Homo sapiens: one gene and its partners. The protein of the gene in region 7 interacts with the protein of the main gene of each other region in a biochemical or structural test. Each region holds a gene or a part of one and is shown on either strand. Other genes may lie near its edges. The genes, in order: SSTR2, TMEM225B, SLC5A12, TMIGD1, SLC6A3, ARVCF and SHANK1.

The links.
Region 1: the proteins of SHANK1 (region 7) and SSTR2 form a complex in vitro, tested with the Homo sapiens proteins (one study listed by BioGRID).
Region 2: the proteins of SHANK1 (region 7) and TMEM225B interact in a test that uses a peptide from one of them, tested with the Homo sapiens proteins (one large-scale study listed by IntAct).
Region 3: the proteins of SHANK1 (region 7) and SLC5A12 interact in a test that uses a peptide from one of them, tested with the Homo sapiens proteins (one large-scale study listed by IntAct).
Region 4: the proteins of SHANK1 (region 7) and TMIGD1 interact in a test that uses a peptide from one of them, tested with the Homo sapiens proteins (one large-scale study listed by IntAct).
Region 5: the proteins of SHANK1 (region 7) and SLC6A3 interact in a test that uses a peptide from one of them, tested with the Homo sapiens proteins (one large-scale study listed by IntAct).
Region 6: the proteins of SHANK1 (region 7) and ARVCF interact in a test that uses a peptide from one of them, tested with the Homo sapiens proteins (one large-scale study listed by IntAct).

The regions. Positions count from the first base shown.
Region 1 is NC_000017.11:73,171,141-73,175,411, reverse strand, and holds part of SSTR2 (somatostatin receptor type 2), read right to left. Parts: 3' UTR 1-4,271.
Region 2 is NC_000007.14:99,596,522-99,601,343, reverse strand, and holds the start of TMEM225B (transmembrane protein 225B), read right to left. Parts: upstream 3,078-4,822; 5' UTR 2,963-3,077; intron 2,741-2,962; exon of another isoform or gene 2,596-2,740; coding exon of another isoform or gene 2,542-2,595; intron 1,140-2,541; coding exon of another isoform or gene 1,059-1,139; intron 1-1,058.
Region 3 is NC_000011.10:26,697,475-26,701,745, forward strand, and holds part of SLC5A12 (sodium-coupled monocarboxylate transporter 2), read right to left. Parts: intron 1,062-4,271; coding exon 932-1,061; intron 1-931. UniProt on the Homo sapiens protein: Acts as an electroneutral and low-affinity sodium (Na(+))-dependent sodium-coupled solute transporter.
Region 4 is NC_000017.11:30,316,520-30,320,790, forward strand, and holds part of TMIGD1 (transmembrane and immunoglobulin domain-containing protein 1 isoform 1 precursor), read right to left. Parts: intron 2,395-4,271; coding exon 2,291-2,394; intron 715-2,290; coding exon 674-714; intron 172-673; coding exon 168-171; 3' UTR 1-167. UniProt on the Homo sapiens protein: May control cell-cell adhesion, cell migration and proliferation, cell morphology, and protects renal epithelial cells from oxidative cell injury to promote cell survival.
Region 5 is NC_000005.10:1,417,244-1,421,514, forward strand, and holds part of SLC6A3 (sodium-dependent dopamine transporter), read right to left. Parts: intron 3,461-4,271; coding exon 3,326-3,460; intron 1-3,325. UniProt on the Homo sapiens protein: Mediates sodium- and chloride-dependent transport of dopamine. Also mediates sodium- and chloride-dependent transport of norepinephrine (also known as noradrenaline). Regulator of light-dependent retinal hyaloid vessel regression, downstream of OPN5 signaling.
Region 6 is NC_000022.11:19,981,852-19,986,122, forward strand, and holds part of ARVCF (splicing regulator ARVCF), read right to left. Parts: exon of another isoform or gene 1,822-4,271; intron 241-1,821; coding exon 82-240; intron 1-81. UniProt on the Homo sapiens protein: Contributes to the regulation of alternative splicing of pre-mRNAs.
Region 7 is NC_000019.10:50,709,365-50,713,635, forward strand, and holds part of SHANK1 (SH3 and multiple ankyrin repeat domains protein 1), read right to left. Parts: intron 2,751-4,271; coding exon 2,583-2,750; intron 2,124-2,582; coding exon 2,007-2,123; intron 1-2,006. UniProt on the Homo sapiens protein: Seems to be an adapter protein in the postsynaptic density (PSD) of excitatory synapses that interconnects receptors of the postsynaptic membrane including NMDA-type and metabotropic glutamate receptors via complexes with GKAP/PSD-95 and Homer, respectively, and the actin-based cytoskeleton.

The DNA of each region.
Region 1 (4,271 bases), on a different chromosome or scaffold from region 7:
GAGGCAGGAGAATCACTTGAATCCGGTAGGTGGAGGTTGCAGTGAGCCAAGATCGTGCCACTGCGCTCCAGCCTGGGTGAAAAAGCGAAACTCTGTCTCAAAAAAAAAAAAAAAAAATTAGAGGCTGCCCATGGGAATGTTCCCAGAAATTCACATATTAAAAGCAAAACAAGCACTTAGGTAAAGGTTTACTCTGACAGAACATTTGATGGGAAATTTGGTGTTTTTGAATTTGGCAAAAATGTGGGATGAGACAAGTGATTGATTGTTGTTACTATAAGTTCCACTGCTTGGCTTGCCAGCTATTGGGATTCTTAGAATGATAAGCATTTTGGAAACACTAATCAGATCTTCCCAACCATCTATGGAAACTTTTGATAATTCTCTTGCCACCTTTCTTTCTTTCTTTCTATTTTGACTGTTTAAAGAATTTTTATTAAAGCAAGAATTTTACAATCCAAATTACGTTTCCCTGCTCAGTTATCAATTCTGTTACTTAAAACAGAACTGATATTTTGAGCTGTTCTACAGTAAAGAATTACAAAATTAAAGAAAGGAATGCTTTAAATTTTTGTACTTTGCTGAAAATTCTTTTCCCCAGGGTCTATAAAACACTAATTTGTTTTTATATTTTACTATTTTTATGGGTTTTTGTTGTTGTTGTTTTTAAATCAACAGGTAACCTAAGACAAGCATTAATTTGCTAGACCTTCAGCCACTCTTCTTTAGCAAGGCCAAAGGTCATGTGTGCCTTACACTGTAACTTTACTGTCTTCATTGAATAGTCACATTCAGAGCTGATCAGGAATATGAATCTTTTTTTCTTTTCTTTTCTTTTCTTTTTTTTTTTTAAGGGCAGGGTCTCACCATATTGCCTAGGCTAGTCTCAAAATCCTGGGCTCAAGCGATTCCCCAGCCTCGGCCTCCCAAAGTGCTGAGATCACAGGTGTGAGCCACCATCCCCAGCCCGGAACATGCATTTTAACAGTCCATTGCTTCCTACCTGTCTCTGTGATCAGCCTGTGCACTTTTCCAGCACGGTGCTCCTCATCTAGGGCAGCTGGGGCTGCGAGTTTTGGCAAGAAACACTTGTATTCCATCATGGAGAGAAGGTTAAATTTGTGTAAGCAAATAGACTCCAGTTCACTGCCAGGTCTAGAAGCCTCATCCACTGGCCCGCGTGTTCCTCTCTGCATGCCATTTTATTCTCCAGTGTCCCTCTGCCATGCTATGTATGAACCCCACTTAAGTTTCTTTTTCTTCTTCCTTTTTTTTTTTTTTTTGAGATGGAGTCTTGTGCTGTCACCCAGGCTGAAGTGCAGTGGCGCGATCTTGGCTCACTGCAACCTTCGCCTCCCGGGTTCAAGCGATTCTCCTGTCTCAGCCTCCTGAGTAGCTGGGATTACAGGCACACGCCACCACACCCAGCTAATTTTTGTATTCTTAGTAGAGACAGGGTTTCCCCATGTTGGCCAGGCTGGTCTTGAACTCCTGACCTCAGGTAATCCACCCGCCTCAGCCTCCCAAAGTGCTGGGATTACAGGCATGAGCCACCGTGCCCAGCCCTGCTAAAGCTTCATCTACACGTCCAGTATTACCCAACTCTGTTACTGAAACACAAGCTAACATCATTCAACATAGGCCACAATATCATATTATTTTTCCCAATATCTTTTTCACTGAGTCCACTTAGGTTTAATCAGCACTTAACTACCCATGCTAATGGCGGGTAAGTAGCAGCTTGCATAACCCAAGTGATCAGATACTCTGAAATCAATGGGGTGCATTACTTTTTATTCCCTCCCAGCACCCAGCAGATTTGTCTTCATCATTAAATATGGAATGGAGACTAAAATTTTTGAATTAAAATGATGTTAACCTTTAAATTAGCATGTTGATTCTCTCTTTTAGATAAAAGAGAACCAGAGAGCAAGTTATCTTTGAAACAGATACTTCAAAAAGTAGAGAATAGCTTTCCCTATGGTAGAAACCTAACTGTGTATTTGGATGGAATTATAGCATCAGATTTAAAGGCCTGTCTTTTAGCCTTAGAATGGTCATCCTGCTGATGAAGACCCACAGATGCCTGGGTCTGCGTTTCATTTTCAGGTTACAGGTGGCTGCTTTGGACTCTGGCCTCCCTACAGGCAGTTTCTCTGGTTGCAGGGTCATGGGTACTATAGAATTAGTCTTTGTTTTTTTTTTTTGAGATGAAGTTTCGCTCTTGTTGCCCAGGCTGGAGTGCAATGGCACGATCTCAGCTCACCGCAATCTCCACCTCCTGGGTTCAAGCCATTCTCCTGTCTCAGCCTCCCAAGTAGCTGGGATTACAGGCGCCCGCCACCATGCCTGGGTAATTTTTTGTATTTTTAGTAGAGACAGGGTTTCACCATGTTGGCCAGGCTGGTCTTGAACTCTTGACCTCAGGCAATCCACCCACCTCAGCCTCCCAAAGTGTGGGATTACAGGCATAAGCCACCACGCCCGGCCTGTAGAATTAGTCTTCTCTGCCTTGAAATTATTTCTACCAATTCTTGGTCCCTTGGAATCATTTCCCTAAAACTCAGCATTTATTCAAGGACCCTGGAACATCTTATGTTATAATAATTGTAAAGTTAGGTCTAAAGCATTTTCTTCCAAATCTTTGCTTGTTTTTGTTTAAAAAAAAAAATCACACTTCGCTAAACATGGCTGCTAGGAAGCCCTGAGCTGAACTTACAGTTGACCTTACTTTTACTAATGGTGTGGGATTTTCCTGCATGCAATTTCTGCCACAACTTTTTCTGTAGTCTTGTTTTATAACTATACCTCTTTTTATTTTTGTATGGATTTATCTATCCAAAATCTTATTGAACATATTTTTCTGAGCCACAGGAAGTACTTTTGGGAGTGAGGTGGTGTGAATTTATACAGAACAAAAGCAGCACATTAAGAAGGACACCCACAGGTGGAGCACTTAGTCACTCCCACCGGCCAACAGCGCTTGCTTAGGGAGCCGGATGAGGAAAGCTCATTTAAAAATATGGTAACATCTATGTGTGAGATGCTGAGTGATGCTCTCAGATGAAACCCAAAGATGATGACATCCTTGCAGACACCCAGGTGTGTATTTCTTCATACTCTAGAAAATGATCAGTCAATGAAATGGATATTGTCTCTTTTCTTATCGCTTGTAAATGTCAGTTTGGGGAACGAAAAAAATGCCACTTTATGGTGTGAAGTGCCTGTCTACAATAGTCCTTGCAGAGCGGCTCAGTGAGTCCATGGCATTAAAGATATGACAGTTACTATGTATACAGTCAGTGAGGAAGGCAGCACAGCAGTATCTCCGAGAGGTGGGGCCCCACCAACACTCACACCACACCCCCTGCACGCTGCATATTCATTGGCAGGTGAGGGTGCTTTTGTTTTGTGAACAATGTCTTCTGGTCTTTAGTACGCATTGTGGTTTTCCTTTTTTTTTTTTTTTTTTTTTTTTTTTTTTTTTTTTGAGACTGAGTTTTGCTCTTGTTGCTCAGGCTAGAGTGCAGTGGCACAATCTCAGCTTACTGCAACCTCCACCTCCCAAGTTCAAGTGATTCTCCTGCCTCAGCCTCCCGAGCAGCTAGGATTACAGGCACGTGACACCACGCCCGACTAATTTACATATTTTTAGTAGTGATGGGGTTTCACCATGTTGGCCAGGCTGGTCTCGAACTCCTGACCTCGGGTGATCCACCCACCTCGGCCTCCCAAAGTGCTGGGATTACAGGTGTAAGCCACCACGCCCGGCCATGCATTGTGGTTTTCTTAATGCCCAGCTTTGTATGAAGTCCTCTAAAGTCCCCTTTGAGGAGTCGTCGAATTACATTTCCATTTTCTTTCATTAGGAAGCTATGTCTGGCCTGAAAAATAAAAACAATTTTATGGTTTCTCATAAAGGTGTAATTTTGCTTCACTCTTATTCACTTATTTTCACGATGGAGAGAATGAAATTGTTTCCCCACAGGAATCATAGTCCATTTTTTGCCTTTCATGTTAGTGATTTTTCCCCCTCATAGCTCCCTAAGAAAAACTAAAGCAATTTGAAAAGAAAAAAATGCAATCTTATAACAAAGTTGGCTTTGTCTTGATAAATACAATGATGGATGACCACAACCACTTAAGTCCTTTTGGGCAAATGAATAATTCTCTGACTATATCTGAGAAGTGGAAACACATGAATTTACATTCTGGTTCTTCAAATATCTTCTCCCTTTCCCTTCTTACATTGACCTCACTTGCCTGAAATT
Region 2 (4,822 bases), on a different chromosome or scaffold from region 7:
TGGGATTACAGGCTTGAACCACCACACCCAGCCCTTCCCTCTCTTTAAATGTCCCCTTTCCATCTCCCATCCACTCTCCAGGTCATACAAGTCACCCCAACCTCAGGGCTTCCACTTCCTTCTATCTAAAATGATGAAGTCTGTTGGACCAGAGGGCATTGAGGCATCCTTCTAGTATTAGAACTCAATGGGAAGGAGTCATGGCTGCATCTTGATCCTGTCCTCTGTATAGATGGGAGTACACTGGGCATTCTCATTTGATAGGGGGCACCTCTTCCTGTCTACCCCATCTCCACCTGTATGTGACTAGAAGTGATCTCTGTCTCCTTTATTTTCTACCTTTTTTTCTCTCCTTCACCCAAACCCTAGCCTTGAGCTCATGCTGGTTCTTCCCTCTCCCCAACCCCACTTCCATCTCATCAGCCTTCCTCATCTTCTCAGTTTTCCCTTCATAAAGTTCCCCAACCTTCCAACCTTCCTGTCCCCACGCCTGCCACGTCTCCCTCCACACCTGGAACATCACCGTCATCCCCAGGCTCCTCTGGCCTCTGTACCTGGTGATTTGGTTTGGCTGTGTCCCCACCCAAATCTCACCTTGCATTGTAATAATCCCCATGTGTCAAGAGCAGGGCCAGGTGGAGATAATTGAATCACGGGGGCAGTTTCCCCCATACGGTTCTCGTGGTAGTGAATAAGTCTCACAAGATCTGATGGTTTTATAAGTGGAAGTTCCCCTGCTCAAGCTCTCTCCTGCCAGCCACCATGAAAGATGTGACTCTGCTCTTCATTCGCCTTCAGCCATGATTGTGAGGCCTCTGCAGCCATGTGGTGCGAGTCAATTAAACCTATTTCCTTTATAAGTTACCCAGTCTTGGGTATGTCTTTATTAGCAGCATGAGAACAGACTAATACACCTGGGTTCCTTCCTGGGGGCGGGGGTGCCTGTTCTGCTCCCCAGATTTTCCAAACCCCACTCCCCTGAAAAGTGCAGCTTGGTGCTGTCCACTCCACGCAGCCCTCCCAGCCACTCCCTCAGCAAAAATTCACTGTGCACTTACAGGTCGCCCCACTCCCAATGTAGGCCAATGGTGGGGATTCAGAGATGAAAAAAGGCAGGAACTCAGAGGCTCTTGGAACTGCTAGGGAGAGAGACACAGAAACACATCATGTGATGCAGTGCTTTTGTCTTCACAGCCCGGGGTTACTTTGGGGCCAGGTATACCCCAGGGCACTACCCCTTATCTGTCCCATTCCCACTGCCCCCTCCACTCTCCAGTGATGAGGACCTTGTCCTCCTTTCCCTGGGCACCAGTCCAGGTCCCTCCCTGAAGCAGCCCTTAGTGCCAGCACTGGACAAGGTTACATCTTCGGATACACAACTTCAGATCCGCACGGATATAGGCCAGACTGAAAGGTCATAGATATTTGAATATAAGAGGGGATTGGTAGATCCTTTTGTACAGAAGCAGAGATGGAGAGCTGGAGAGAGGGAATGACTGGTGGAGGATTCCACAGCCCATCAGTGCTGGCACAGGGACCAGAATACTGCATCACTGCCAGGACAGTCTCACCAGCCACCAATGGCCGGCAGTTCAATTCAGTGATTCCCAAATCTGGAATTCTGTGGATCCAGAGAATGCTTTCTTATAGGCATGTGCATGTGTGAGAAAGAGAGAGAGAATGGGGGAATATACGACTGCCAACTTTTTATTTTGCCAAGAGCATTAAAAACAAAGCAACTTATCTACTGTCACTGGTTTGGTTTTTATTCAAATTTTTGTTGTTGTTCTTTTTTGAGACAGGGTCTTGTGTCACCCAGGCTGGAGTGCAGTGGTGCATTCATGCCTCCTGGGCACAAGCGATCCTCCTGCCTCAGCCTCCCGAGTAGCTGGGACTACAGGTGTATGCCATTACACCTGGCTAATTTTTTTTTTGAGATGGGGTCTTGCTATGTTGCCCAGGCAACCCCTGGGCTCAAGTGATCCTCCCACCTTTACCTCCCAAAGTGCTGAAATTACAGGCATGAGGCCCCACGTCTGGCCAAATTATTATTTTTTAAAGGACCCATGGGCCGGGTGCGGTGGCTCACGCCTGTAATCCCAGCACTTTGGGAGGCCGAGGCAGGTGGATCACGAGATCAGGAGATCGAGACCATCCTAGCTAACACGGTGAAACCCCGTCTCTACTAAAAATACAAAAAAAAAAAAAAAAAAAAAAATTAGCCAGGCGTGGTGGGGGCGCCTGTAGTCCCAGCTACTCAGGAGGCTGAGGCAGGAGAATGGCGTGAACCCGGGAGGCGGAGCTTGCAGTGAGGCGAGATCGTGCCACTGCACTCCAGCCTGGGCGACACAGCCACAGCGAGACTCCGTCTCAAAAAACAGAAAGGACCCATAACACCAGGAGGTAAGAAAAGCTGTGTACCCCGTGGTGGTGCCTGGACCAGCGTCTGAGGACCACTGGCTTGGCAGGAGGTTCCTGGACCCTAGGCCCCCTTCAGCGCCTGAGCTGCAGCCCCGCACCTCCCAGGCCCTGGCACTTAACAGGAAAGTCGGCAGCTGCTCTGGGGATGAAGGAAGTGGGCGACCTGAAGGGCATCCTGGTTTGGAATGGGAAAGAGACCTTCCCTTCCCACTGTTTCCTCCGGTCATTTGTGGCAACTTGGACTGCACATTGACCCAGGGTAGGGTCAGAGGTTCCTTCCCGTTGACAACCGTCCTCGGCCCTTTCCCCTGAATGCCAGGACTCCGCCCTTCTGTGGCCCCAAAGCCATAGGGATATTTTCAAGACCCCAAGCTGGGCCCTAACCAGGCCATCCGCCCCCAGCCCCTGCCCCGGGCGTCCCACAGCCAGTTAGGCGATGTTCGGCCTTGGGTGGGTAGGGGGACTTCCCCACATCCTCTCCCAACCTGTGGGGCCACCTTGCTCTCCCCCATACTGGTCTCCCCTCTACCCTTCCCTCCACCTGCGGCACCGTCGTAGGCGGTTTCGCGTCCCAGAGCTGGGCTGCCCTCCAGGCGGGTCACGGTGGGACCCTCGCCCTCCACTCCAGGCTCCACCGCGCTCCTGGAGCTTCCGTTGGCCCCAGAGGCCCCGGCGGGGGGTTGCCCCGACCCGGGGGAGGAGCCCACTGAGCCTGGGCCTCTGAGCGGAGCTCCAGCTCCAGCTCTGCGGAGGAGACGCGGGCTCACCTCCCTACCTGCCGCCCCGGCCACCGCAAACCTGGCGGGTGGAGGGTGGGGAAACCAGGCCCTGGCGTCTGCCCACAGTACCGGCTTCGCTCACGGGTGTGTGGGGGCGGAGGAACAGAGAGCGGGAGGGATCTGAATTCAAATCCTAGCTCTGCCATTACCAGCGTGGGGACTTTGAATAAATTTCCTGTGTCTCCTTCCTGGGTCCTGGGCTTCTAATCTGTAAAATGGGAATAATAATAGTATTAATAATATGGTGTTAATAGTATTAACACTATTATATTAATGATATACTATTAACACTATTATATTAGTAATATAGTGTTGAGTGTTAACACTTATATTAATAATATAGCGTTAATAGCATTAACACTATTGTATTAATAATATAGGGTTACTATTAACACTGCTATATTAATAATACATGATTAACACTATTAATCATATAATAGTGTTAACACTATAATATTAACAATATAATATAGTGTTAACACTATTATAGTGTTAACACATATTATATTAATAACACTATTATATTAATAATAATTGTTAATAATATAGTGTTAACAGTATTATAATTATATTAATAATTAATAACACTCGTATATTAATATTATAATTAATAATAATAAAGTGTTAATAGTATTAACACTATTATATTAATGATAATAGTGTTAACACTATTAATAATGTAATAGTATCTACACTATAATAATAATATAGTGTTTCATAATATAGTGTTAGGCCGGGCGCGGTGGCTCACGCCTGTAATCCCAGTCCTTTGGGAGGCCAAGGCAGGCGGATCACGAGGTCAGAAGATCGAGACCATCCTGTCTAACACGGTGAAACCCCGTCTCTACTAAAAAATACAAAAAATTAGCCGGGCGTGGTGGGGGCGCCTGTAGTCCCAGTTACTCGGGAGACTGAGGCAGGAGAATGGTGTGAACCTGGGAGGCGGAGCTTGCAGTGAGCAGAGATGGCACCACTGCACTCCAGCCTGGGCGACAGAGCAAGACTCTGTCTCAAATAATAATAATAATATAGTGTTAACACTATTATATTAATAATATAGTGCTAACACCATTATATTAATAATATAGTGTTAATAGTATTAACATTATTATATTAATAATATAGTGTTAACACATATTAGTAATGTAGTGTTAACACTATCATATTAAAAATATAGTGTTAGTAGTATTAACTCTCATATTAATAACAGTGTTAACACTATTATATTACTAATATAGTGTCAATAGTATTAACATTATTATATTAATAGTAGCACACTGTGATATTACTAATATCTGTAATGTTAATGATATTCAGTGTTAGCACACTGTGGTATTACTAACATCTATGATATTCATAGTATTCAGTGTTAGCACACTGTGATATTACTAATATTTGTGACATTAATAATATCCAGCGTTAGCACACTGTTAACACACTGTGATATTACTAATATCTATATTATCTATCATATTAGTGATATCCAGTGTTAGCACACTGTATTAACACACTGTGATATTACTAATATCTGTGATATTAATAATATCCAGTGTTAGCACACTGTGCTATTACCAATATTTGTGACATTAATAATTTCCAATGTTGGCACACTGCAATGTTAA
Region 3 (4,271 bases), on a different chromosome or scaffold from region 7:
TCAAGCCCCTAAAAGAAGACTTCAGGGAATCTAGATATGATGCACTACTCTACATCCAGGTTTGTGGCAGAGGAGCCCCTCTTTGACAGAGCAGGACAGTTAAATATATATAGAGAGGGAAGGCAAATGATTACTTCCCTTGAGCATATTCTCCATAAATGGAGTTTTCAAAACCATGTTTACTGTAGTATATCAGCACGATGTTTAAGTTATGCTGAGAAGACATGATAAGAGGCAGGCATTGTGGAAATAAGGGTCGTTTTCTTCAATCTGAGGTTCCTTAATCAACTGTGAAACCTGTAGGAAGAGTCCAAAGGCAGCAGCGACATCCAAAGCCATGGTTCAAGCCTGCATTCCACTCTCTCCAGCCTTGCTATGCTGCCAGACCTTGTCTTTAAGAACAAGGTGAGATGCCGTCTTTTTTTTTTTTTTTTTTTTTTGAGACGGAGTCTCACTCTTGTCGCCCAGGCTGGAGTGCAGTGGCACGATCTTGGCTCACTGCAACCTCTGCCTCCTAGGTTCAAGCAATTCTCCTGCCTCAGCCTCTTGAGTAGCTGGGATTACAGGTGCCCGCCACCTTGCCTGGCTAATTTTTGTACTTTTAGTAGAGACGATATTTTGCCGTGTTGGCCAGACTGGTCTCGAACTCCTGAGCTCAGGTGATCTGCCCGCCTCGGCCTCCCAAAGTGCTGGGATTACAGGTGTGATCCACCGTGCCTGGCCAAGGTGCCCTCTTTTTTACATGCTCATTCCCCTGTATTAGAACCTGGTAGGTGCTGATATCACCCAAGAGAAGAAAGAAACCAACTTCTTGGGGTTTGAGAAATAGTGAGCAGTCCAGGAAGAAAAAGAGAAAGGCCAAGATTATCCACCAATAGCTAGAAGCACGCTCATTCCAGACACTCGCCACTGTCCTCAAGAAAACCCATACCTGGTCTGGTGCTGAGATGATGCCAGAAGTCCAAGGGTCACAGTCTTTAAAGTGAGAGTACATGATTAAGCCAGAGAAGACAGCACACACCAGAATGATCCAGAGACCCAGCAAGTTAAAATACAAGGCACTAGAAAAGAGCACATGGGCCTATTGGTAGCCTGTATACCATATCATACTGTGGTGAGGTCATTACCAGGTACTCAAGGTAAAGGGTTTTGGGTCTTTTTGCTAGTAAAATAAAATTCTATAGCCTTTAAGAATCACTACACTTTATACTTTTGCTATTTTTTTTTTGCTTGAGAACATTACATTTTTAGACTCACTACCAAATTTAAATAAAGTAAGATTTTAAGTGAATTTTCCTTTGAAATCAAGAGTTTTTGCAAAACCTTGATATGTGTGGTATGAGATCTATTCTCTTGGATGAAATTTCACATACCAATCACTCATATTATATAACTTCAAGTGATTTTCCCCCTACTCAATTCATAAAACTGTCAAAAAGGCAACTTACATTTTTAACATCTTTTTCCAGAGAGATAATGAGCTAACACAGAAATAGATAAGTGTTGGAAATATTCACTTTGGAGATTAATGCAGATAAAAGTTAGAGTTGGTTTTTTAAAAAGACAACAGAAAGTACAAAAAACTTAGGATCATCTTACCCATACTATGTGGTGCAATTCATTTTATTTTAAAACCCACAGATATGCCTAATTCCAGTCTGGGTGTTTTTGTAGTATCCTACGGTTATGTTGTATTCATTACTGTCCTTTGAAAGTAAAAATTTTACTAATTTCCTCAATTCCAGAGAGGACATGAAAGTAGGCTGGCCTTACCTTGGCCTGAGAGAATAAACAACCTCACTGTGGAGATGGCCGCAGGAGGCCAAGAGAGCAACGCTGAACATTGTCTAAGATCTAGTCATTGTTTGAAGGGAATCATATTTAAATGTAAAGACACACGTTTATTTCAAAATCCTCTAAAACCTATACCGTACAGGTGTACTTGATTTTCAGAAGACCCTTAAATCAAAGTCCACATTTATAAGGCAAATACGCCAGATAATTATCCCATTTAGAGGAGTTTTCACCTCACAGTTTAGAAGAAGTTTTTATCTCAAAGTCTACTTCCTTGAAAGTATTTTGCCAATGCAATGATTTTTATGTGTTTGTTTGTTTTTCTTGGTGGGCTTTGGGAATACAATTGCTACATAAAATGAGCAATACCGATAATTGCATTAGTTGTACTCTTGCTGTCTCCAACCTTCAGGCCAACTCTATTCAAGCCTTTGCTCTGGCTGGCTAGAGAGACTTTCCTGCTCATCCTTATTTGTAACAGTCACTTCCTGCTCTCTTGTCAGTTTCTACTCCTTATAATTATTTATGTCACTATAGTATTTATGATCTGAAATTCTATATTTATTCATGTATTATTGTTTTGTGTTCCCAGAGCACTGAACAGTTCCAGCATATAGCAAATATAAAATTATTTTTTTGGTAAGAAATAATGAAATGATTGAAGAAATTAATGGTAGAAATTCTTTACTACATAACTGCATTTTTTACACTGTTTCTTTTTAAAATATACCATTGGACCTGGAGTTAAAAGTCTTTATCCTTAACAACTGTGTGACTTTAGACAAATCACATAACACTCTGAGTCAGTTATATCATCTGTAAAAAGAATGTAACATAACTGCCTTACTTTTTATTATAGGATTATGAGGATTTAATGAGTTATACTCTGTAAAAATATGTGGAGGTTATATAGCCATACAGAGGACAGTCATACATTATCCAGAACAATCTTATAAGTTCATCAGTCAACTATGTGAAATGAGAAACCAGTGGAAATAGAATATTAAAGTCATTGTATTTTGAATTCGTTTCTCATTTAAAATGGACTTGGGTTCTATACAGGGCTAATTCTTCTGTTTGTAAAATAGGCTTTTTCATTGATCCATTCAGAAAGTATTTATTGGGCAACTCTCTGTACCAGGCCCTCTTCTAGGTATTGTAGCTATAGCAGGAAGCAATGCAGAAGACAACCTCATGGAGATTACATTTTGGGATTAGAAGCAGGTAATGAACACTGAAAATAAATAAATAAATAAATAAATAAATCAGATAATTTTAGATCTGATAGAGATATGGGGAAAATAAACTAAGGAAGTGGAAATGGAAATGCAACTGTGTGTAGATGTGCTCATCGTAACTGGGAGATGGGACGTGATACCCTGCATCAACTCCTTCTACCCTCATAGCACCATTTGCTACCAGCAGACCTGAAAGATAAACAAGGGATTAGAAACACAGTTAGCTTCCAGGAAGCACATGTAAGTGTCTCAGTAAGTGATACTATTTCTAGGTGCAAGGAAGATTTGGCTTTAGATTAAGTTGTCTTTGGTGACTAATCACATTTCTGGTCATGAAACCAAATGCATGTATATGAGCCACTCCTGATTCTAACCCATGCCCACTTTTAGTGTGAACTTTATGGATCTATTTTTACTTACCTATTTTGCAGGATTTATTTTCCTCAAGTACCAGAGATTTTTCTAAGCCGCATGGAATGTCTTAATTACATTAGGCTCTCAGATAATGGAACAAAAGCAGAACATCTCATCAACATCTTCAGAGCCTCCTAAGTGACAGTCAGTCAGCAGCTGGCTCTGAGTGGCTTCCAGATGCCCCTGAGTGCCCTCAAGGCTCCAGCTGTGTGACAGATGGGACCCCCCTCACCATTTTCTCACTACAGCAATCTCCCCTCCAGCTCTGTGCACTGCAACTATACCAAACATCTGAACTGATTTCTCTCTCCTGAATTTTATTAACCCTATCACCTTAGATTCTCTCAGGGAACCCTTTTCTAAAGAGAATTTTTATTTTTTCATCTTTCATTATTCTCACAAAATTACTATCACAGTCCTAATCCCTTCATGGGAGTTGGCATGAGTGGAACCAGGAATGGCAGTCCTGAATATTAGAAAATTATGTACATTTGTTAGGAAATTATGTACATTTCTGTCTTCATGAGTATGCCTCCTTTTCTGACAGCTTTCATACTCACTAAATACTAGTACAACAAATTCCAAGTTCCAGGCAACTATAGGAATGGGATTGTGTTCATTTTTCTTGAATTAAACTACTTTACTAAATCAGGTTTTAAGATTTATATACAGAAATGTGTGTGTATGTGTGTACACATATTGATTGATTACAGCTATATAATTTTATTACTTGGCCTTTCTTGTTGGAAATTTCCTAACTAGATAACAATAAGTTCATTGGTGGCTTCTGATTAGTTAGCCTTAAGTTTCATTTACATATATATT
Region 4 (4,271 bases), on a different chromosome or scaffold from region 7:
TGTTCCACAAGTGTATCAAATTAGTCCTAACAACTACTGTTAAGTGATTAATGAAACAGGAGTGACAGGAGTGAATTTAATAATAGCAATAAATACAGATGGGACTACATAAATTGTGGAGGTCCTGATGCAAAACTCTCTCTGTATTCGATGGCATCTCAGCTTTCTCATCTGAAATGAATGAAGAAATTAATAATAATGATGCTCATAGCAATAAGAAAAAAATTCAAAACAAAACCCATACTCTCTGACAACATGCCTTTGTTCTTATTACCTACTACCCACTTCACATATGCTAGAAGCGCTAAACAAAGCTGCAAAGAGAAGGCAGTATGGGGATGAATGTGGTTCCTGGCCTTGTTGTAAAGCAGTATGGACCAGTGACTTCCTCCAGAGCATTTGCATTGTGTGGCAATAAAATGCAGTTGCACAAACATTGGGCAAACTCACTTAAAGAGGGAGCAGGCTTAGGACTAAAGGTGTTCTCTATTCTAGGCAACTTTTCAACCTGTCTTCCTCTAAAGTGGAGGCAGATTTTCCTCCACCTTCTATTCTCCTTTGAACCCCTTCCCCTTCCAGCACCTCCCATCTCTGGAGTTTGTCTAGAGTGATGCATATCACTGCTATTCATCTGCTTATTTAAAAAGCACTGGTCCCGGCCTAGAGTACTTACAGAGCTGTTTCACTGTGAGGGTCTTTATCCTTCATGCAGAGCTAAAAGCAAACATGGCAGTAAATTAGCCTGCTTTTTAAGGCCCATGGAGAAATATTTTGAATGCATTAAGATGGCTCGAGGACAGGTGTGTGTCCTGTGCACACCTCTGCACTGGCTCAGGCGTCATTTTTGGGGCCACACTAGTAGTTTTTATTAAACTCAAAGAAGATGTAACTCTTAGTTAAGATGCTTCCAGTGTCTTAGATACTTGAGTATTTACTTTTTTATAGAAAAAAAAATGCGGCCGAGTGCAGTGGCTCACACCTGTAATCCCAGAACTTTGGGAGGCCAAGGCAGATGGATCATTTGAGGTCAGGATTTCAAGACCAGCCTGGCCAACATGGTGAAACCCTGTCTCTACTAAAAATACAAAAAAACAGCCAGGCATGGTGCCACATGCCTGTAGTCCCAGTTACTCTGGAGGCTGAGGCAGGAGAATGGTGTGAACCTGGGAGGTGGAGCTTGCAGTGAGCTGAGATCACGCCACTGCACTCCAGCCAGGGTGACAGAGCAAGAATCCATCTCAAAAAAAAAAAAGAAAAAAATGCTTTGTGGCTGGGTGTGGTGGCTCATGCCTGTAATCCTAGTGCTTTGGGAGGCTGAGGCAGGCAGATCACTTGAGCTCAGGAGTTCGAGACCAGCCTGGGCAACATGGCAAAACCCTGTCTACAAAAAATACAGAAATTAGCCGGGCACGGTGGTGCATGCCTGTGGTCCCAGCTACTAGGGAGGCTGAGGTGGGAGGATCACTTGAGCCCAGGAGGTTGAGGCTACAGTGAGCTGTGATCAAGGCACTGCACTCCAGCCTGGGAGAGAGAGTAAAACTCTATCTCAAAAAAATAAAAAAAGAAAGAAAGGAAGACAGAAAGAAAGAAAGAAAAGAAACAACAACAACTAAAATATGCTTGGGATTGGAATAGGGGGTGGAGTGAATTTCTTCTTGAGAGACATGGCTGCCCTGTTGCTATGTGTTCCAAGGAGAATGCCCCTTGCTGAATGATGAACTCAGCCTAGGGCTTTCTGCCTTTTTTGCTCTCCTTTGGCACTGAATTAGCTGGCAGAGTCAAATGCATGGCATTAACCTAAGCATGCACGTATTCTGAATCATACCAACCAACGAGGATAACCACTTTATAATTCAAACACCAGTCCACTACAGCCAGGGCATGTGGCTATAGTCCAGAAGTGAGCAGCCAATGCCATCTTTTCCATGCAGATCTCTGAATCTAGAGCGGATGTTCCTCCCTATATTTATTTATTATACCACAGGTATCATAGCAACAATAAAGGGCAATTTAAAAGGAGGAAAATCAGCCCCCAATTGCCTACCCCTGGCAACACAGCTATTTTCAATTCAGGCTTTGCCCATGTGCACTTCTCTTCTTTGTAAATCTGTACTCATAATGTACATATAATTTTTATTCCCTTGAGCAACTGTATTTTAGATCTCATGGTATAAAGACCAGATTTGACTTTGCCAAGAAGGGTTCCTAACTGAAGTCACTTATATTTCTAGCTTTCTGCCTTTATTCAGATGATGGCTTTTTACTTAAATAGCTCAGAATACTTAGATACCTTCATTATTTTCTTTCTTCTAGCAATCAGTCCAAAGCACAATGTCAGAAAGATCACAACACATGCAGCAATAATGGGCTCTATTGGTACACCCACAGTTTTATCTGTAGGAAATGCAAACACAGGGAATAAGAATGAACATTTATATACTTCCAATACGTCCCAGCAATGGTGCCTTGAACTTTATGTGTGTCATCCCCTTAATTAAACCTTCTCAACAATCTCAAAAAGTAGGTATGATTGTCCTCATTTCACAGGTGAGGAACCAGGAGGTTTGAGGGGTTAGAGTGCTTGTTCAAAGTCATAGAATTAGGCCGGGTGCAGTGGCTCATGCCTGGAATCCCAGCACTTTGGAAGGTTGAGGCGGGCAGATCACTTGACGTCAGGAGTTCAAGACCAGCCTGGCCCACATGGTGAAACCCCATCTGTAAAAAAAAAAGAAAAAAAAAAAAATATATATATATATATAGCTGGGCATGGTGGCAAGTGCCTGTAGTCCCAGCTACTTGGGAGACTGAGGCAGGAGAATTGCTTGGTCCCAGGAGACAGAGGTTGCAGTGAGCCAGGGTCGCGCTACTGCACTCCAGTCTGGGTGACAGAGCAAGACTCTCTCTGTCTCCAAAAAAAAAAAAAAAAAAAAAAGTCACAGAACTGGTAAATGGTAGAGGCAGGTTTTGAATCAATTCCTTTGTGGAATAATAATTTATTGTAATATGAGTAACTCCCCTAAAACAAGTAGACCATTTTGTGCTTCCTTCACCCACAGTTTTTGCCACACACAGAGCAGAAGTAGATTGAAGTCAACGATTTTGCCTGGATTTTGAAAAGTCCAAAATATATTGGGAAGTATCCTGGGGTGGGTGAGGGAAGAGAGGGAGGAAGGCTTTGAGAGCAAGAAGAGAAAGGGTGGAGAGCTTTCTGGACTAAGAAGGAGAGAGAGGTCTGTGGGCCTCAAAAGCAGTGGGGAGCCTTGTACCTGTACTGCAATGGTGCCCCAAGCAGGTGACAAGACATTATAGAAGGTAGGTGGCTGCATAGTGTCTCTAGGGAAGTAGGACTCTAAGCATGAGCCTTCCCAACCTTGGCAAAGTTTTCTGCATCTCTCTAAATGCCATGCAAAGAGAGAGAGCCTACTTCTAACTTGGACTAGGAAGAGATCAGCAGCAACCATGACAGCTTGGAAGTGAAAGCCTACCCCTTTATTTTCTAAACACCAGGTCAACTGAGAGCTATTTTTTTTTTTTTGAGACGGAGTTTTGCTCCTGTTGCCCAGGCTGGAGTACGGTGGTGCAATCTCGGCTCACTGCAATCTCTGCCTCCCAGGTTCAAGTAATTCTCCTGCCTCAGCCTCCCGAGTAGCTGCAATTACAGGCACGTGCTACCATACCGAGATAATTTTTGTATTTTTAGTAGAGACGGGGTTTCACTGTGTTAGCCAGGATGGTCTCAATCTCCTGACCTTGTGATCCGCCTTCCTTGGCCTCCCTAAGTGCTTGGATTACAGGTATGAGCCACCGCACCGGGCCAAGAGCTACTTTATTTATCAGTCACTATAGGCATAGTGCCTGTGTTTGCAAGCTTTCTAAGAGCCTTTGAAAATATTTGAGACCCAGAAAAAAATGATTGGCCCCAAGATATGAAAAGAAAGTAGCAAAATTAATCAAAATTAATCAATGTTTAAGCATCTGTAAAATGCAACCTGGCATCAACTCTAACCGAACTGTTAAATAATAATGTTTAAACCTCAAGAACCAAATGAGTAACTTATTTATAACAAAATTCAAAATCTATACAAGTTATAAAAATTCTTTCAAAAATTTTATAGCAGAAAGCACATACAATGTGCTTTGCTTTAATATCTTTGATATGATATGGAATGAAACTCTCAAAAGTAAAAGTGAAAGCCAGGCAGCGTGGCATATCCGTAGTCCCAGACACTTGGGAGGCTGGGGCAGGAGGATTGCTTAAGCCCAGGAGTTCA
Region 5 (4,271 bases), on a different chromosome or scaffold from region 7:
GATAACCCTCAGAACAACATAAACTCATCCTGAGGCTACATGATGGTGGCGCCCTGACAACCCTCAGAACAGCATGGATCATCCACATGCTGCATGATGGCAGCACCCTGATAACCCTCAGAAAGGCATGGACCCATCCACATGCTACATGATGATGGTGTCCTGATTGGACGCACACCAGCAATGCCTGCTTTGTATCCTTCCCAAAACATGAGCAGTACAGGTGCACAGTGGCACCTGGGCATGGCCAGGAGCCCACCTGCAGCTTAGACACTGGTGCTGTGCCTGCCCAACTCGGTGGATGGCACCCACAACTCTGGACGTGAAAGGAAAGGTGGGTGGGTCCACGATTGGACCATTGTGGTATTTTAAAAAGTCAGCCACAACCTGCTAAGGTGAGGGCACTGCGGAGACCATTCAGTGACTCAGATGCCCACCTTGCCCTTCCCTGGGCCTTGGATGGGGGAGAAGGAGCAGCCAACCCCCCCTTGGAGGCATTTGAGGGACTGGTCAGTTAGGGCTGTTCCTGCAAGTCCCTGGAGCCCATGGTACAGGCCTGTGGGCCAGGATGCTGAGGCAGAGACACCAGATGCTCCTGCTGGGGAGGCCAGGTGGGTCTCAGGGCATCCCAGGTCCCAGGTCAAGCTTGCCTGAGCTTGACTGAGCAAGGGAACTGGGTGCTGCAGAGGGGGCGGGGCCCTCTGTCCTTTGGGCAGCATGTCAGAGCCTCAAGGCAACCCCAGTTCCTGGGACAGTGTGTTTGGAGGCAGATGGCCAGGCCCCGCAGTCAGGACTCTGCAGGTGGCCAGTGTTTCAGCATGAGGGGAGGAGCCAAGCCGAGAGTGGCTGGGTGGGCAGTGGGTGGAGAGGCTCATACCCTGATGTGGCTCCCATGCTGGTCATCAGCCACCTGCCTGGCCAGGTAGCTGCAGGCTGGATCAGGTGTCACAGGGGAGCGCCTGCCTCCTCCTCACCCTGATCTGTGTGTGCAGCTCAGGCCTCTGCCCAGTGCCACACCAGAGCCAGTGCCCATGGCTGCCTCCCTGGGCCTCACCTCATGCACTTTCACTCCAGGACCTGCAATTGTCCTTTCCTTCCATTTCTTTCCTGATTTCTCTTCACTATACATCAATCCATCATCTATTATCTATCAATCAATCATCTATCTATCTATCATCTATCACTGTCATCTATCAATCCATCACCAATCTATCATCTATCTGTCATCTCTATAATCTATCAACTGTCTATCATCTATGAATATATGAAGTACATGTGTGTGTATGTATCTATCTCCATCCATCCTATTGTATATCCATCCTATCTACCTACCTATCATCCATCCATCCACCCATCCATCATCCATCCATCCACCCATCCATCATCGATCCATCCATCCATGCTATCCAGCTACCTATCATTCATCCATCCACCCATCTGTCCATCATCCACCAATCCACCCATCATCCATCCATCCATCCATCCACCCACCCATCCATCATCCATCCATCCATCCATGCTGTCCAGCTACCTACCTATCATTCATCCATCCACCCAAACATCCATCATCCAGCAATCCACCCATCATCCATCCACCCACCCGTCATCCATCCATTATCCATCCATCCATCCATCCTATCTAGCTACCTACCTATCATTCATCCACCCATTCACCCATCCATCATCCATTCATCATCCATCCATCCATCCATCCATGCTATCCAGCTACCTACCTATCATTCATCCATCCACCCAGCCATCCATCATCCAGCAATCCACCCATCATCCATCCACCCATCCATCCCATCCATCATCCATCCATTATCCATCTGTCCATCCTATCTAGCTACCTATCATTCATCCACCCATTCACCCATGCATCATCCATTCATCCATCCATCCATCCATCCATCATCCATCCATCCATACTATCCAGCTACCTACCTATCATCCATTCCTCCATCCACCCATCCATTATCCATACATCCAGCCAGCCAGCCTTCCATCCACCCATCCTATCTATCCATTCTATCTACCCACCTATCATCCATCCATCCTATCCACCTACTTACCTAGCATTCATCCATCCATCCATCCATCCATCCATCCATCCATCCATCCATCCAATCTATTCACTGTCTCCACCTAATTTCTGACATCTCATCTTTGTAATTTGTTCTCCAGTGAGCATCTTTTCACATGCACTGGTGTTTGTTTTGCCTCCTCCTGGGGCTGCCTATTCTTCCTAGCTGGAGCACTAGGCTCTACGTTGTCCTTGTGGTATTTTTCTTTGATTCTGTAACATGCCATGGTCCTGCAAACACACCCCTTGGCTTCATTTTGGCCTTTCTGGGGTCCAGACGCCCTGCTGACTTCATGGTTTGTCTGGCTCCAGCTCTGCACTTGTGGGCCCCCGGCCACAGCTGATTTTGCTGCCCTGGTTGTCCTCCTCTCTCTTCCTTGGCTCCCGTGGGCCACACGCCTGCTGCACCCATGGCTCCTGTCTCCACAGGGCTTCCCCTTCAGTGCTGCAGGCACACTTCCACCCCCACCCCCACCCAACTGCTTTGCAGCCTCATAGGTGCCATGTCCAGGTGCCCTCTCTCACTGCACCTGTCAGCTGCTGCCTCCCTGGGGCTTCCTGGGAGGCTTGCAGCCATGCCCGCCCATCCCTTCTCCCCTTCCTTCCCACTTCTGCCTTGGGTTTACACTTGCCTCATGACCCCCAGACCTGGCTCCACCGGCCCACCCACACAGGGCAGCACCTCTCAACGGCCTCCTGCCTCATACCCCAGCTGAGATGGCCCTTCCCCTCTTGCTGCATTGTCCTCCCACAGCAACATGGATGCCCCTGGGCGGCTTTGGGGCCTGCCACCTCCCCCACTTAGTCCACCTGATTTCCAACGATGCCCCAAGGGAGCTGCCATTTTTGTCATGCCAGCCTTCCGCCAACAGCTGCTTCTGTTTCTGGGCCTGTTTGCCAGGAAGGGTGCAGCCCTTTCTCCTCCCTTTCTGGACAAGGGTCCCATCCCCCATGGCCCAGCTGAGTCTCCTCTCTCCGGGAGGCTTTCTCCAAATATTTTAACCCTGAATTATGTCTTCTTTTGCTGACCAAAGCTGCAGCCTGAGTCTAGATGGAGTTTCTGATGTAATTTGATTTAGATGACTCGTGCTGTATCACAGGTACTTGGGATTTGGCTTCCCGAGGAAAGAACCCTGGTGTCTGCAACTCTGACACCTCTCAGCCCTGGCAGGCAATGCATATGGAAACCTGGGAATGCCAGAGCCCCTGTGGACTGTGAAGCAGTGAGCAGACTGTACTCACAGACGCCTCGCAGAGCCGGTAGAAGTCAACGCTCAGGTATGCTCTGATGCCGTCTATGGCTCCAGGGAGGGTGACCCCACGCAGGAGCAGGGCAGTGAGGACCACGTATGGCATGGTGGCTGTGATCCATACCACCTGCAGGAGAGGACAGTGTCACCAGGCTGCACAGGCAGGGCCCTTGGTGGGAGCAGACACTGGCACAAGGGCACCGGGTTGCCCTGACGGCTTGTCCTCTGATTGGGAGGCCCAATTCCCAAACATTTCCTGGGACGCCAGCTCAGCAAATGCTCCTTGGAGTGAGAAGGTCAGACACTTTCTGTCCTGCACACCCTCCCCAGGGATGGAAAGGGAAGAACAACTTGGCAGGGAAAGCACATTCCTTTTCTGCATTCGGTCCGCCAGAGTAGCTGGGAGTGGCTGATGGGGGTTTTCTGATGCGTGGGACGTGAGTGGATTCACACTGGTGAACGGCACTGTGGCACGATGAAGGGCTGCTCTGGGCTGTGTCCCTGCGGGAGGCTCCCGTGGCTGGTGCCATACTACACGCACTTTTCCAAGGGAGGAGTCGTATCTTGGTCAAAACTGGTTTTGGCCCATATAACAACCAAAGTTTTTTTTTTTTTTTTGAGATGGAGTTTTGCTCTTTTTGCCCAGGCTGGAGTGCAGTGGCATGATCTTGGCTCACTGCAACCTCCGCCTCCTGGGTTCAAGCAATTCTCCTGCCTCAGCCTCCCACGTAGCTGGGATTATAGGCACGTGCCACCGTGCCTGGCTAATTTCGTATTTTTAGTAGAGATGGGGTTTCATCATGTTGGCCAGGCTGTTCTTGAACCCCTGACCTCAGGTGATCTGCCCGTCTCAGCCTCCCAAAGTATTTTTATCAACAAAAAAATCATCTTGTGTGTGCCTTCCTGCCAGAAACACTGCTGTGAGTGCTTCCCTCCTG
Region 6 (4,271 bases), on a different chromosome or scaffold from region 7:
GCTTCCATGTCCACTCTGCAGGTGGGACAGCTGCAGCAGCCTGGCCCTGCTCACCCACCCACTGCCTGGGCCTGGCCATACCTTGGTCTCGGTGCGCCGGGTTGTGCCATCTTCGGATGTGACAATAGACACATGGGAAGTGGGTGTGCCGGGGTCCTCCTCCACCGTCACGGTCTCCTCCAGCACATCAGGTGCCTCCGGCATCGTGGCCAGTGAGGCCTGGCTGCCTGGGCTCTGCTCCTGGGGCAAGGAGGGACATTGGTGGGCAGGCCTGCTGCTCAGTCACCCCTGGAGTGCAGGTCTCCACACACAGCAGCTCTGCCTCAGCTCATGCTGGCCAGCACACCAGGGTGCCTTCCTCCTGGTCCTGAACCCACCCACCCCAAGGCCTGTTTCGGCCCAAGCTGACAAGGACAGCAATAAGTTCTTGCCCTCTGAACATCGAGGTGCTAACCCTGCCCCGGCACCCCATCCTGGGGGGACCCTGGGGCTGGACCCCCATCTCAGGTCTCCTCAGGCTGAGTTGGCAGATAAGGACATAGACCCTGGGGGGTGAAGTCTTCAGGGCCCTCCCCAAGCTGCATGGCCTGGCTGCCACAGGCTCCTCCAGGCCCCAGGAGGTGCCAGTGAGACCTGCAGCATGCCTTCCTGATGTCAACCACCACCCCTAGCTGGGACATCATGGTGTCCTGGGGCCTCCTCCCTCACCTGCCCCAGACACCTTGAGTATAGAAGCCTTGTGGGGGCTGTTTCAGCACTGCCTACTGACTCCTGTGGCCACACTAAGGTTCCCGCCACCAACGCCAGCCAGACGCCCTCAAGGGACAGAAATACGCAGTTCCCAGAACACCCCATGCACCTGCAGCACCAGTATGTCCTTATTCCTTCCAGCCCAGACATTCTTGAGTGTTGTGTAGGCACAGGTTTGCCCTACCTCGGGCCAGTGGCTGGCGCCCCCAGTGACTGAGACTCTGGGCATCATATCAGAGACCAGACACAGTAGATTTGAGCCTATGGGTGCCCTTGCCACCATTCTGCATGGGGTGACGACACTGGAATTCTAGGCAAGACAACTCTGGACTGAGACTTTTCTATCCACATGCCTACTGACTGGACTTGCCAGTGGGGAAACTGAGGCTCAAAGAGGATAGGCTGGCCCACATCAGAGCCAGGCCCAACCCCTGCCGCGCTGAGTGGCTTGAGGACCTAAGACTCACAGCCTGCCCCGGGCCTCTGACTGCACAGGTGCCTGGCCCCAGGGCCACATGGCACCAACATCCGGGGATCGGCATCTAGCCAGGATGGGCAGGAGCTGAAACCCAAGCCCTGGTGGGTGGGTCAGGCGGAGCACATTCCCAGGCAGCCAGGGCAGGGTCAGCAGGAGGACAGGTCCTGCTTTGTGGCCCAGGCCCCTGGTCCCTGCACAATGGGTCCCTTGCCTGGGCCCCCTGGGGCCTGCACAGACACTAAGCTCTGCCAGGCTCCAGAGGCAGACTCTGCCCATTCTTGGGCCTGGGAGGTGAGCCAGGTTAGATGCTCAGCGCTGCCCTCAGGACCTGCCTGCCAAGGCTCGTGGGCTGGGAAGCCTCCCCAGGTCAGGGTCCTATCCTGGGGGAATACTTGACCCCCAAATGCATGCAGTGCAGGTGTCCAGGAAGGGGCCTGCACCAACATGTTAGGACAGGTGTATCCCTCAGGCTGACAGAGGAAAGAAGTGGCCACAGAAGGCACCTCCCCCTCTCCCACAGGCAGGGTCTTGGAGGATGACAGATAACTTTATAGATGGGGAAACTGAGGCCTGGCAGGGGGAAGAGGATTTACCTAGAACTTCACAGTCCAAGTGGGATTTCAAGCACCCCCAGAGAAGGCAATCTGGCAAGGAAGGCTTTGGGCCTCATCTCGCCCTCAGTCTTGAGATGTAGGTGGAATGCCTGCTGTGGACCTGGCTAGGAAAAGGGGACCTGTTCCCTGGGAAAAAGAAATAGACTGAGGCCTAGAGTGGGGACAACTGGCACGCTGCCAGGCAGGGCAGGCTGGGCTCTTCTCCAAAGGCACTGGGGAGCTGGGACTGCTCTGAAGCAGGAGAAGGCTTGTGTGGCCCATCACTGCTGGGGCTGGGCTGCCCCATCTGTATCTGGCAAATGTGTGTCAGGCCCTGAGCTCTCTCTGCTGGGCCCTGGGCGGGGCTCATCTGAGTTCAAGCAGGGGCCCAGGCACTGAGGGGCTGCAGTTCTGGCGACAGAGTGAGGAGGGTATAAAGCAAGACTGAGGAAACGTTACCCAGGACTCTGCCAGTGGGATGTAGCCCCTCATATATGTATATATTTACATCTATTAAAAACTCAGAGAAAAACCCCCTCTTCCCTAGCTAGGCAGTGGGGGTAAGCGGGAGAGGAAAAGGGGAGGACATCTCAGGACCCCGATGCCACTCTGTGGCCCAGCTTATCCCTCCCACCAAGGCTGTGGTGAGGGTCTGACAGGCAGAGCTGGGGTGGTCCAGGAGAGCCACGCCCCCGCAGCAAGACCTGGCAACCCTGCGGCACCACCCATCAGCCCCGGCCTAGCAGCCCCGCAGTAGGATCCAGAGGCCCCAAGAGTCCCTGCTGGCAAATGACCTCAGGGAGCTAAAAACGAGGGATGACTTCACCCGGGTGGCAGGTGCATGAGTCAGCCAGTGATCACAGGAAAGCCCGGCCCCTGCTACACATGCCCAGGCACACACACATGCATATACATGACCCCTCAGACAGGGACACATGCATGTACATACACGTGTGCAAGTACCCAGCCCGGCACAGGCCGAGCACATCAACCCGTGTGCTCTAACAGCACCCCAAGGGCACGGCGCCCACTGTTCCCAGAGGCACACTCGTGAGCACACATCCTCCCGTCCTCCACCGTGTATCGGAGACCCTTATCCATGCAGGGCCTCACAGAGTCTCAACACACAGGGACAGGGGCCACCAACTCTGCCAATCATCTGCCCAGCATCCACTCTGGGAGTCTCAGAGCTGGCTGGCAGATGGAGAAACTGAGGTGTAGAGTAGTGAGAGGCCCATAGCCAGCTGGTGGCTCAGCTCTCTGCAACATCTTTAGGGTGGGGCTGTGGAATGGTGGGCTGACTCTCAACAGGAGTTGGCTGCAGTCCCTGGATCCCTGTCTGGCCCCAGTGTCCATGTCTGACGTGCACCTGCCCAGGCTGGCCCACTCTCAGGGACCCTGGCCCTGCAGCCCCACACAGCCTCTGCCTCAGACCCAACTCTGGGCTGCTCCCCTCTGTACCCTAGACATGGGCTCTACCCTGAACACCCCACCTCCAGCCCAATCCCACATGCTGCATCCTGTCAGTCGTCTCTCATCACCCCCTCCCCAGCTGGGGCCCCATCCTTGCTCCTCTTGCACCCCGCCCGGCCTCCCAGCACTCATCCCTCCCTTGGCTCTTCAATCTCTGGTGCACCAGGTCTGGGGCCCCCAGGACTGGCCCAGAAACAGGCTGCTGCCCAGGCCTGGGGTTTCCCATGAGCTCCCTTGGGCTTGTGGGAGGGGCCAGAGTGACCAGGGAGGTAGACCACCTACCCCTGCTCACAAGAGGGTCCCGGGAACACAGGGCTGAGCCCAGCATAGGGGCTCTGGGCCCCATCACGCACCTTCGGCTCAGCTTCTTCACAAGGAGGTGAGAAGGACAGAGGGGGCTGGGGTCGTGGGACGTGCTGGGTAGCATCAGTCTCACTTTTGTGGCAAAATGCAAGGAACACAGGGAGCAGAAAAGCAAGATTGGACCAACACACAGAGGGATGCTGGGGCACAGGTGGCTGGGCCCTGGTCCCATATTACTTATCTACCCAAACCACCGGACTTCACAGATGCACCACGGTCTGTGTCCTGAAGAACAGACTGCAGGGGCAGGCCCCTCCCCTGTCCAAGGCCTGGCTAGCACACACAGAGAATGAGTTAAGGTGAGATTGCACACCTGGATCCCACACCTGCAGGCCAGGCTCCCAGAGGGCAGGAGGTGGCTGCTGTCCGATGGATGAATGAATGAATCTTCTCCATCCCCATTATGGCCCTCCCAGGTAGAGTCCAGGACAAGCCAGGCTGGCATCTCTCACCAGGCAGCAAGCCCTTGGCCACCACAAAATGCCCTTTCCCTTGGTGCCACAGCCTCTGACCAGTCTCCAAGACCTGGAGCTTACTTCTCCACACAGCAGTGCACCTGCCAGGGCGTGGCCCCAGGCAGAGATGCCAAAAAGCCAAGCTGGGGGAGCAAACTT
Region 7 (4,271 bases):
TCTCCTGACCTAGTGATCCGCCCGCCTCGGCCTCCCAAAGTGCTGGAATTACAGGCGTGAGCCACTGCGCCCGGCCTGCATGGTAGATATTAATTATTGACCCATTTCACAGCTGAGAAAGGAGATCAAGGAGGGGAAAATGACTTGTGCAACTGTCCCACTAAGAAAACTCTGCCTGCTGTCTAATTCTAATTTTTTTTTTTAAGGCAGGGTCTCACTCTGTCACCCAGGCTGGAGTGCAGTGGCATGATCATAGCTCACTGCAGCCTCCACCTCCCAGGCTCAAGCAATCCTTCTGCCTCAGCTGCCCGAGCAGCTGGGACTTCAGGTGCATGCCACTGTGCCCAGCTAATTTTTGTATTTTTTCATAGAGACCAGGTTTTCCCACGTTGCCCAGGCTGGTCTCGAACTCCTGGGCTCAAGCCATCCTCCTGCCTTAGCCTCCCAAAGTGTTGGGATTACAGGCATGAGCCACCGTGCCTGGTCTAATTCTCTATACCAAAATTTCTCTGTTTATCTGAACGGTACAGTTTCTGTCTCTCGACTGGACCCTGACTGACACTGGTGATGGTAACAATGACAATTATTATTCTGATGGCTGCCTTCCAGGGATGAGCACTTAGTATACACGATGGCTCACCCTCGTCAATAAGAGCTGGCGTTATTCCCATTTCAGGAAGAAGGATGGAGCCTCAAAGAGGGGGAGGGACTTGTTTGCTCCCCACCCCCATCTGCCTGTGGGGCCAGGGCTTCTTCCCCATCAGCTGCACGAGGGCCTGGGAGTCAGAGGATTGGTTGTGAGGCCTGTGTCGCAGAGCAGGAGACAGGAGCACGTGGGGAGAGAAGTGCCGGCACCATGTTGGTTCGGTTTGACAAACACTGAGTCTTCCCTGGGCTCCAGGCATACTGCTGGCTGCCACAAGGCGGCACGTGGCCACCCGCCAAATCCCCAGCACTGCAAGTTCTGCCGAGGCAGAGGGGGCTGAGGGCTGTTTTGGAAGACTTCCTGGAGGAAGGGGGCTGACAGACCAGCTCTGTCATGCTAGCGCCTGTCTCTCTAAGTACCCCCACCAGCTGCCCTTCAAGGGCAGGAAGCATCAAGAAACAGGTGGGGAGATTGAGGCTTTCCATGGGGCTGACCTGCCCAGGATCATCTGCAGCTCAGGTGGCTAAAGTACCAGAGGTCATGACATTGAAAGACCCGGCTCTTGCCAACCAGCTGCCACGAGCCCCCCTGCCTGCTCCGTACCTCTCCTCTCCTAGGAACTCCAGAAGTGGGGGTGTTCTTCCCATCTCCCTTCAGCACTCCCTTCCTGCTCAGGGACCCAGGTTGTCAGGACCCCCAAGGTCCTGAATTGCTAAAACTCCCATCCCACTGTCATTCCCTTCAGGGGCCACGGGGGCTGCACGTTGGCCTTTCCCCTGTGCCCTGCCGTGCCGCCACGTGGCACCTGCACACACCACTGGCTGAATGCAGACACAGGGGAACTGAGGACCCACAGCCCCCTTTCCTCTGGCTTTCTGCACAGGCTGTGCCCCCACCCTGGAGCACCCCTTTCTCCTCTTTTCTACTCCTGCTCATCTTAACACTGGGGGCACCTCCTCCAGGAAGCCACCTTCACCCCCAGCCACTCCATCCCAAGCCCAGTCCCAGATGTGGGCTCCCGCAGGGATCTGGATTCCCTGTGACTTTGCTCTGAGCACTCTGGACTGTAGCAGCAAACTATGTTGTCTGCCCTCTGCTAGGCCATGAGCTCAACACTTTGTCCCCAGCACCCAGCTCCAGGCCTGATACAGAGGAGCTCAGTAAATATCTGTTGGATGGATGGATGGATGGATGGATGGATGGATGGAGGAATGAATGGAGGAATGACTGGATGAAAGGGTGGAAATAGTGAAGAAGTGGAGGGTGCAGAGATGCAGTCAAGAGGAGTGTCTGAGCTTGGCCCTGGGGGAGGCGGCTATCGGGGATGTGAGGGGCCTGGGGTGGCCGCTGCTAGGCAGACCTTGTTGTAGAGGGCGCAGATGTGCAGAGCCGTGTTCCCCGAGGCGTTCTGGGCTCCAGGCTCAGCCCCGTAGAAAAGCAGATGCTCCAGGTGCTGAGAGTGACCCCGCTGGCAGGCCTGGGCAGGACAGGGAGCGAGGGGCATGGATCAGACCCAGGCTGTTCTCCCTCTGGGCCAAGAGTCTGTCTATGACCTGTGCACTGGCCTTCTCATCCTATCGTTCACCGCATCCACCTCCCCATCACCTTTTAGCCCCGCTTCCTGCTCTGGGACCCAGGCTGTCAGCCTCAAAACCCAAATGTTCAGTCATTCCAAGGCCCAGGCGTCTGGTCTGCCTCCTTAAGGGGGTCAAGAGGACAGCCCATCCCTCTCAGGGGTCAAGGCATCAGGTTCCCCAGCCTATGCCCCCTTAGGGTCTTTCTGCCTTCACCCCCACCATTTCCTCTTTGGGGACCATGTTATTCTCACCCCCATGCTCTGTGAGGACCCTGGCATCTGGTTCCCAGCCCCAGCCCCTTGGATGCCTCAGGGACTGGGTCCCCCACCCCAGCCCTTCATGGCCTGAATCAGGAGCACCTGGTGGATTTCCTGCCAGCCGTTCTCATCAGCTATGCCCAGCTGGGCCCTGTTGAACAGGAGCAGCTCGCAGCATCGGGGGTCACCACCCACCATGGCCGTGTGGAACAGAGGGGTCAGCCCCCGACGGTCCTTGTAGTTGGGGGAACCCCCAAGGTCCAGGAGCGCCTAGGAACGGAGAGAGAACCCAGTAGAAAAACACAGATGACAGTCACACATTAACCAGCTCATTCTGAAGGGCCAGGGGGACTGGACCGTCCTGGGTGACCTACAGTGGCCAATGACAGTCTCAGTTCTGCCGTGATGCCCTTGTGCAACCTTGAGCCTGGCCCTTTCCCTCCCTGGGCCACTCTGATTCCGTGTGAACAATGTGGGACTTGGGTAGATGCCTCCAGAGGACACTTGCACTCTGACATCCCACCCAGCCTTCCCCCTGGGGGCGATCTTGGATGAGCCATTGAAAGACATTAGGGGCCACAGTACCCACCCATTCCACTTCCTACAGGTGGGTTGTTGGGGACAAGTGAGAGGACAGAGTCTGGATGCTGGAGGGTCTCTGACCAAGTGGGAGGTGTTATTAGGTCCAGGATCTCAAAGAAGGGGCACAGCAGGAAGCCAGGGGACAGGTAAGCTTGGGTAAGGGCAAGGATCGGGCCGGCCTCACTGGGGCTGGAGGCCACTTCCTGCCCCCACTTGAAGGACAGCTCTGGGTGTGGAAGGCTGGCAATAATGAACATTAATAGGAGAAAGTCTTGGCAGCAACCTCGTGTGAGGACAGCCTGTAGCAGTGCCACCCAACAGAACGTTTCCCCCATCATGGGGATGGTCTGCAACTGCACCACCCTATATGGCAGGCACGTGTGGGCCCCTGAGCACTTGAACGTGGCTAGTGAGCCTGAGGAACTGAAATTTTAATTTTACTTCATTCTATTTAATTTAAATTTAAACAGCCCCAGGTGGCCAGTGGCTACTGGCTTGGATAGCGCAGGTCTGGAGGCTGGGAGGGGCGTGTGTGAGCAGGATGTGGGTTTGGGGGTGAGTGTGCATGGGAGATACATGAAGAGGATCTGTTAACTCCAGGGGTATACTGCAGATCTTTGTGGCTGGCATCTGACTGCATTAGGGGCTCTTCAGGAAAGCATCTGAGGGAGAGAAGGGAGGGGCCGTTTAGCTGGAGCAGCTGTGCGTCGGGGTGCTTCTCAATGGCTGTCTTTGGGGGCAGCCCATCCTGACCCTCATGTGAAGAGCAATCAGGTGTCCTGGCGGGGGCAGGGGGAGAAGAGTATTTTAAAATTAGACTGTGCAGCTGCCGCTGTGTATGTATTTTGTGGGTGTATGGGTTTGTCTATTTGGGAAAGTGCATTTGAGGCTGTGTACGTGGGGAAGGGGCTGTATTTGCATGTGAGAGAGGAGGGAGGGGAGCTGGTGCAGTGCTGGTTTGGAAGGGTAGCTGGGGGGCTGTTTTCAGGGTGTGTGTGGAGGGGCTCTATCTGGGGGCATAGCAGGGAGCTCACTTCGTATTTTAAGGAATGAGAAGGGTTTACACCTTGGGGAGACAGAGGCAGATTTGGTATTAAGCTGGGCCACAGGGGATGGAGACGTTCTGGGTGTTTAGGGGAGGAGGCCGTGCCCGGGTCTGTGTGATGTCAGCTATAGCCCAGGTGGGTGCATCTGGGGGGCCTGACAAGG